2 linked regions of the Homo sapiens genome follow. The protein of the gene in region 1 interacts with the protein of each later gene in a pairwise test. Each region holds a gene or a part of one and is shown on either strand. Other genes may lie near its edges.

Region 1 (4,174 bases):
CGTGCCATGCACCTAGAGTCCACTTCGTCGCGACTCTCCAACACCTATTTTCTCCAGGAGCTGCTTCGGACCCGTTTGTTTTTTTTGTTTCGTTTTGTTTTGTTTTTCTGACAGCGACAGCCCTTGGGCAACGCTAATCATTCCAAGCAAATTCTGTCATGCCAAGACCTCCCTTAACAGCACGCGCCCACTTGTTTCCAACTCTCCTGCGAATTGGGCTTCGGGAGCCTCCGAAACCAAGGCTCGGAGATGTGGAGCGCACAGGGGAAGGGTCGAGCTGGGACCCACACCCGGCTCTTCCTCCCACACCGCCTGTTGAGCCCAAGGCTCAATTTCAACACAAAGCTCTCCTTCCCTCAATTCCTTCAACGACGGGTAACCTTCAACGAACACCTACCGGACCAGAACAGAGTGTACGAGCGGCGCGGGAAGGTGGCACAAAGGCATGGCCCAGAGGAGTGGCAGGAAGACTCAGCCGGGGCCCTCCACTCCCCAGCCTGCCCGGCCTGGGCAGAGCCGCCGGGCCGCCCGAGTCCTGGGGCTCGCGGAGGAACGGAGATGGCCTCCGCAGGGGCTCGCGGAAGCCCCCAGGGCGTCGGACCGTCTCACGCGCGCGTCCCGCGCCACTCACCTGTGGGACCCATAGCGTCGCCCGCTTCAGAGGTGGAAGCCGCCATTCCGCCACCGCGCCAAAACGTCGTCATCAAGCTGCGCGCAGAGCCACGCCCCGCGGCCGGGCGGGAAAAGCGCTTCTACCTCTTTGGGCCGTTACCTCAAAAGGTACGTGCGCAAAGCGAAGAAGGCCGGCCGGCCGGCCAGGGAGGGGAAATGGCGAGGCAGGAGTGCGGGGGGAGGGAGTGGTCCTTAGCTGAATGCGCCTGCGTTGTGGCGGCCTCTGGCGCCCCAAGGTAGGGCTCACGCACTTTCTCCCTAGCAAGGAATGCGCGTGCGCGTAAGCAGGGTTGTTGATTAGTGCCCCCCACCCCCCCCGAAGAGCGACCCCTAGTGGTGCACCGGTGCGGACCAGAAAATTGCACGCTTTCTTGAAACAGGTATTGACTGAGCGCCCAATGTATGCCTGGCACTGGGCTGGGTGCTGCCACCTAAGCGAGCACGACCAATGCAAGTCTATCAGGGACGCCCTGACCGCCAAGCAGCTGGCCCCTGCAGTCCGCCATGCCACTCCCGACGCCTAGCGCGCCGCTCAGCACACCGTGAGCGCCCACTAACTGTTGGGCTCCAATGACGCCGAGGAGGCGGCCCCGTCCCCGCGCTCCCGCCGCTCCCGCCAGGGCAGCCCGGGAGGCCAGACGCTGGCGCTGCAGGGAGAGGGCGGTGGGCGCATCCGCTAGGGGGCGCGGCGGGGCGGGGCGCACCTTTCGGCGGGCCTCGCGGATGGCGGCGCAGGGCGTAGGGCCTGGGCCGGGGTCGGCGGCGCCCCCGGGGCTGGAGGCGGCCCGGCAGAAGCTGGCGCTGCGGCGCAAGAAGGTGCTGAGCACCGAGGAGATGGAGCTGTACGAGCTGGCTCAGGCGGCGGGCGGCGGTATCGACCCCGACGTGTTCAAGTGAGCGGGGCGGGTGGGGGCCGCATGCTCGCCAGACACCCCCGACCTCTGCTCTCCGGGTACGCCCGGCCCGCTGGTCGGGAGGAGCCCCCGCTGCCCCCGCCCCCGTCCTTGTCCGGTCTTCAGGGAGGTGGCCGCGCCGGGCGGAGAGGGCTCACCGGCCCCGCGTCTGTCCCCGCCAGGATCCTGGTGGACCTGCTGAAGCTGAACGTGGCCCCCCTCGCCGTCTTCCAGATGCTCAAGTCCATGTGTGCCGGGCAGAGGCTAGCGAGCGAGCCCCAGGACCCTGCGGCCGTGTCTCTGCCCACGTCGAGCGTGCCCGAGACCCGAGGTCAGAGCTGGGCCCGCTGTCCCTGCCCCAGTGGCGGGGGTGGCGGGCGGGGAGGGGGCAGGCGCGGCACAGCGGCGGCGTGGCCCTGAGTGGCCAGGCCTGTCTGTCGGTCGGTCTAGGCCCAGCACCTGCAGGGCCCATCCGTGGGCTCTGCTCCTGGGCTTCGCTGCCAGCCTTAGGAGGCACGTCCAGGTCAGGTGGACGCAGAGTGCGTGCCCCAGGGTGGTCCAGGCTGGGTAGGGCTCCTCCGCTTAGCTCCTCCCCACCTCTTCACTCAGGCCTTCATCCTACAAAGTCGGGAATCAAGACGGTTTGGGGCTGGGCGCCGTGGCTCACGCCTATAATCTTTGGGACCCCACGGCGGGAGGATCCTTTGAGGCCATGAGTTTGAGACCAGTCTGGGTGACAGGGTGAGATCCTGTCTCTAAATGTTTTTCAAAAGACAGTCTCGATCTCTGTCCTGTGGTATACAGCATCCAGGGAAGTGCCCAGGGAGCAGGGCAGGCAGACGTCTTCCTGCCTTTACCCCACCTGGGCCCAGTTCCTGCCTCTGATGATTGCAGGAAGAGAGTTAGACGCGGAACTCCCAGGGTGCAGAGGCCTGCGGGGTCTGAAGGGCCTCCTCCCTCTCCAGTGTGGTGACTGGGCTGAGGAGATGCTGGGACTGAGAGTGTCATGGTGGAGCCTCCGTCCCTGCTCATCCTCTCCGCATGTTGCTTCTGCTCCCGATGGCTCTCTCTGAAATGCAGCACAACCTCCCAGGCCAATGGAAGGAGGCCCAGAGCTGGCTCCCTGCCTGGAAGCAGGAGGAGACCCTCACAGGCATCATGAGAAGGCGTGGAAAGCAGGCTGCCTTCATGGGGGAAGTGCCAGGGCCTGGGCACCCACGCCCGCTGACCCAAGAGGGCCCGGGCACCTGCGTGCTGGCCTCTTCACTGACCCTCGCTCTGTCTGCTCTCTTTGTGTCTCTCTCTGACCTCCAGAGGCCTCCTTTCTCTCTGCCAGGAACAGTAGCCCCCCTGCAAGGCCCTCGTTTTCCTCCAGCCCGCAGCCTGCGGCCTCTCTGGTTATGCTCCACAGCCCAGCTGCCACACACTCACCTCTCTCTCCAGGCCCCCCGGGTTCCCTCCGCCTCTCTTGCTGCCTGTTCTCTCCTTTTGCAGGTTGCGTTTATTGGCTTATCTCTGGGGGTTGGTGCTCTTCCTTGTTTTCATGGAAACTGCATGGCCCCAAGAGGCCCAAGCAGCTTTGAGCTGCAAGGGCAGGATCATGCAGGCCACCGCTGCCCTGCCGCTTAGCCACAGGGCACTATTTCTGACTCGGTTTATTAGAGACATGGTGTGGCAGTCTCTAGACCCCACAGTCGGGCTGGCATCCGGGGACAGGACCAACATCCCCACACCCCAGAGGCGAACTAGTGGTGAGTGTAAAGAGCCCCTCTCCAGGGGAAGACAGCCAGCCGGGTGCAGTGTGCTCTGCTGGAGAGCACAGCCCCAGGCGTGACAAACGCCTCGGCCTCTTAGAAGTTGTCCCCTACCTGGACAGGAAGTCTGGAGGCTGAAACAGAGACTCCCACCTTCCCAGAGTCTGCCAGGCAGTGCCACACAGATGCCATGTGCTGGTCCCATGGCCACACTCCAGCACTCAGCCCCCTTGCCCGCCTCACTCCTGAGTTGGGACACTTTCCAGGTGTCACCAGGTGTGATCAGGGGCCTGTGAGAGCCCAGGGGTCTTTGGTCGCGCCTCCTGCATGAGCCTCCTGACAGCGGCCACCTCACTGCCACCCAGAGCTCAGGCCCAAGAGAGGGTGGAGAGGGCCTGAAGGACAGGCCTGGAGTAGGGGTGTATGGACTGCAGGCTGAGATGAGCAATTGAGGGGCAAGTGTCCAGCAGGAGGGAGAAACTGGGAACAGAGTTCTTGTCACTCCAGGAGATGTTGCTGCTCACTTAGCACTCACTCAGGGCTCTGGGTGCCAGGCCTAGCTCTCAGGGCAGAGGGCGTGGCAGGGAAGTGAGATGATCACACTCAGTCCAGTGAGAGGCAGTGAGGAAAACCACCAGTGAGACCAGTGTGCTGGCTCACACCTGTAATCCCAGCACTTCGGGAAGTCAAGGCAGGTGGATTCCTTGAGCTCAGGAGTTCAAGATCAGCCTGGGCAACATAGCAAGACCCCATCTCTACAAAAAATACAAAAACTAGCCAGGCAGGGCCCGGCGCGGTGGCTCACGCCTGTAATCCCAGCACTTTGGGAGGCTGAGGCGGGCGGATCTCGAGCTC
Region 2 (3,306 bases), on another chromosome or scaffold:
TACAGATTAACACTACCTCCACCAAATCCTCTGCTGCTACCGTGGCCACCTCCGCCACTGCGGCTGCTGCTTGCGCGGCTGCTGCTGAAGCTGGAACTGCTGGCACCGCTACTTTGTCGGTAGTCTCTGGCACCAAACCCTCCACTAAATCTGCTACTATAAGAAAAAAATTATGTTGGTTCACATGAAGATGAAATTCCACTAAAGTAACCTAACTCTTTCCTAATGACCAATTTCTAATTTTTCCATTCAAACAATTCCCCATCCAGCCATATTTTCCCCAACAGAGTGTCACCCATTCTAATACAACCCCTTACCAAAGAATCTAGGAAGCCTAAGATGATTAAGCTTTTTAAATACTGTACAGTTAACCTTGGACGTTATGCATGCAGAGGAAACACTATGAACTGTAAGTGAACACCCATTCCCCTCATTATATACTATTTATACCTCACCTCTTAGAACGTCCACGACTGCTACCCTTGTAGTGGTGTTCATAAGCCATGTTTTCTAACCAAGACGGCACTTCTTGTTTAGCTTCAACAAGAAGATCCAACAAATCCTTAGTAATATTTATGTTCCTCTCGTTAAAGAATGAGGTTGCCAGGCCTAAAAGAGTTCCCAAAAAAGTATATAAACAAAGGTCTTCCATAAAGTAACTTGCTACTATTCTTACTTTCCTACGTAGAAATATTTAAAATATTACCACGTAATATTTAAACAAGTGCTTTGAGCAAAATCTTTGTCACTTTCATTGTTAAAAATGTATTTTAGATCCTAGCAAGTTCTTTCCTGCACACATCACAGCAAAAAACAATGAAACCATCAAGTAATCAAATACTTACCAAGGTTTCCTACACGTCCCGTACGACCAATACGATGTACATATTCTTCAATATCACTTGGCAAGTCAAAATTGATAACATGTTTCACATTTGAAATGTCCAGTCCTCTTGCTGCTACCTGGAAAATAACTTTTATGAGATATGGCCCACTTAAAAGAAAACAAATACTTGAACATGCTCAATTTGAATAAAAGAAAGATGTTTATACATACTGCTGTAGCCACTAAAATTGGGCTTTTTCCTGAGCGGAACTGGTGAAGGGCCTCTTCTCTATCCCTCTGAGAACGGTCTCCATGGATGCTGGTACATGCGTATCCTTCATGGTATAAGAAATCCTCCAGAGAATCTGCACCCTTTTTGGTCTCCACAAACACTAAGGTCAGTGAATCCTTGCCTGTCGTTGAAAAATTATAGGTTTTTGTCACTAACATGGCTTAGTTCTCTTTGCACTTATGTATGCACAATTTTAATGTGTCAATTAAAATACATATATATCTTCTTAAAAACGGGCTTTCAACACAGCATGTTTTGAATTGAGGAGGAAAAGTAATAAAGGTAATCCAAATACATTTAAGAGATGGGGGTCTCACTAAATTGCCCAGGCTGAGAGTGCACTGGCCATTCGCAGGTGCAATCATGGCATACTACAGCCTCAGCCTGCCAAGTAGCTGGGACTACATGCACTGTACCACTGCACCCAGCCCAAATGGGTTATTACCAGAGCAATTAAATTATTCATAATTTTAGCTGGGTGCAGTGGTGAGTGCCTGTAGTCCCAGCTACTCTGGAGACTGAGGCAGGAGGATTGTCTAAGTCTAGGAGTTCTGGGCTGTAGTGTACTATGCCTATCAGGTGTCCACACTAAGTTTGGCATCAACATGGTAACCTCCCGGAAGCAAGGGAGCACCAGGTTGCCTAAGGAGGGGTGAACAGGCCCAGGTCAGAAACAGAGCAGGTCAAATACTCCCATGCTGATCAGTAATGAGATCACACCTGTGAATAACCCCTGCACTCCAGCCTGGGCAACAAAGAGAAACCCCCATGTCTAATAAAATAAAAAATTCATAATGTTACCTGTTGCATTTAGGAGGTCAAGCAGAAATGACCGTTTGTCTGATTCTTCCACCCAAACTACTTTCTGTGTGATGTTTTCAGAGGTAGAGCCAACTCTTCCTACAGCCAAGAAGATATATTCATCTAAGAAATCACGAGCCAGCATCTGAAAGAAAAAAAATTTTTATTATTACCTGAGATAAACAAATTTCTAAATAAATAAAATTTGCAACATCAAACAGTACCTGTATTTCCTTAGGAAAAGTAGCACTAAACATCATAGTGTGGCGGACACCCTTTGGAGGCATAGTATCTTGTTCGACTATTCTACGAATCTGAGGCTCAAACCCCATATCCAACATCCGATCAGCTTCATCTAACACCAAGTATCTGTCATGTCATGAAAAAAAACAAGCCTGAGTTTAGAATTTGAGGAGAAATCAACATGGTTTTAGTATGGCTGTTAGTATAATTACAAATACAATTGTATAGGTTATTACAATTATATATTCATTAAGATGGTGCCTCACACTGCATAATTTTACAGACACAGCACAGGATTCTTGCCACTACATAAGTCATTCAAGATTACACAGTCAAATTAGCCCATCCTAGTTGACTGTCCCACGAGCTGATCATTGTTGTAAGTCTCAACCAAGATGTTACTGATTTTTCAACATTAAAATTACCATGAACAAGCTTTTTGTGAAAGTTAGATGTCTGAAATACATCACTTCTCAGCCTTAACATTTAGACAATGTTAACATCACCACAAAACTAATGGGCAGTAACTTTAATACTGCATCCCATACATTTAAAAATTAACATACTTGGCCGGGTGCGATGGCTCACACCTGTAATCCCAGCACTTTGGGAGGCCAAGGCAGGCGGATCACCTGAGGTCAGGAGTTCGAGACCAGCCTGACCAACATGGAGAAACCCCGCCTCTACTAAAAATACAAAAATTAGCCCAGCGTGGTGGCACATGCCTGTAATCCCAGCTACCTGGGAGGCTGAGGCAGGAGAATCGCTTGAACCCGGGAGGCAGAGGTTGTGGTGAGCCGAGATCGCGCCATGGCACTCCAGCCTGGGCAACAAGAGCGCAACTCTGCCAAAAACAAAAGAACAAAACAAAACAAAACAAAAAAACAAAAACAAAATAAAACATACTTGCAAAAGTCTAATCCAATCTTTCCTCTTTCCATCATATCCACTAGACGTCCTGGAGTGGCTACTAACAAATGGCATCCACGTTCCAAGTCTCGAATCTGCTGACCAATATCGGCACCACCATAAACCACGCAAGGACGAACTCTAGATCGGTATGAAAACTATAAGCAAAAAAAATGTTATGAACTTCAAGGTCAAAATTTTTACATGTTCATAAAACATTTAATTAGAATCAATG

What was found. The genes of interacting proteins can lie anywhere in the genome.
Region 2: the proteins of MZT2A (region 1) and DDX3X interact in binary tests that used the Homo sapiens proteins (3 or more experiments, as listed by UniProt).

The regions. Positions count from the first base shown.
Region 1 is NC_000002.12:131,489,598-131,493,771, reverse strand, and holds the start of MZT2A (mitotic-spindle organizing protein 2A), read left to right. Parts: upstream 1-1,374; 5' UTR 1,375-1,395; coding exon 1,396-1,565; intron 1,566-1,747; coding exon 1,748-1,896; intron 1,897-2,535; exon of another isoform or gene 2,536-2,612; intron 2,613-2,879; coding exon of another isoform or gene 2,880-3,059; intron 3,060-4,174. UniProt on the Homo sapiens protein: Required for the recruitment and the assembly of the gamma-tubulin ring complex (gTuRC) at the centrosome.
Region 2 is NC_000023.11:41,344,162-41,347,467, reverse strand, and holds part of DDX3X (ATP-dependent RNA helicase DDX3X), read right to left. Parts: intron 3,230-3,306; coding exon 3,069-3,229; intron 2,289-3,068; coding exon 2,144-2,288; intron 2,065-2,143; coding exon 1,920-2,064; intron 1,240-1,919; coding exon 1,058-1,239; intron 964-1,057; coding exon 846-963; intron 610-845; coding exon 456-609; intron 157-455; coding exon 17-156; intron 1-16. UniProt on the Homo sapiens protein: Multifunctional ATP-dependent RNA helicase. The ATPase activity can be stimulated by various ribo-and deoxynucleic acids indicative for a relaxed substrate specificity.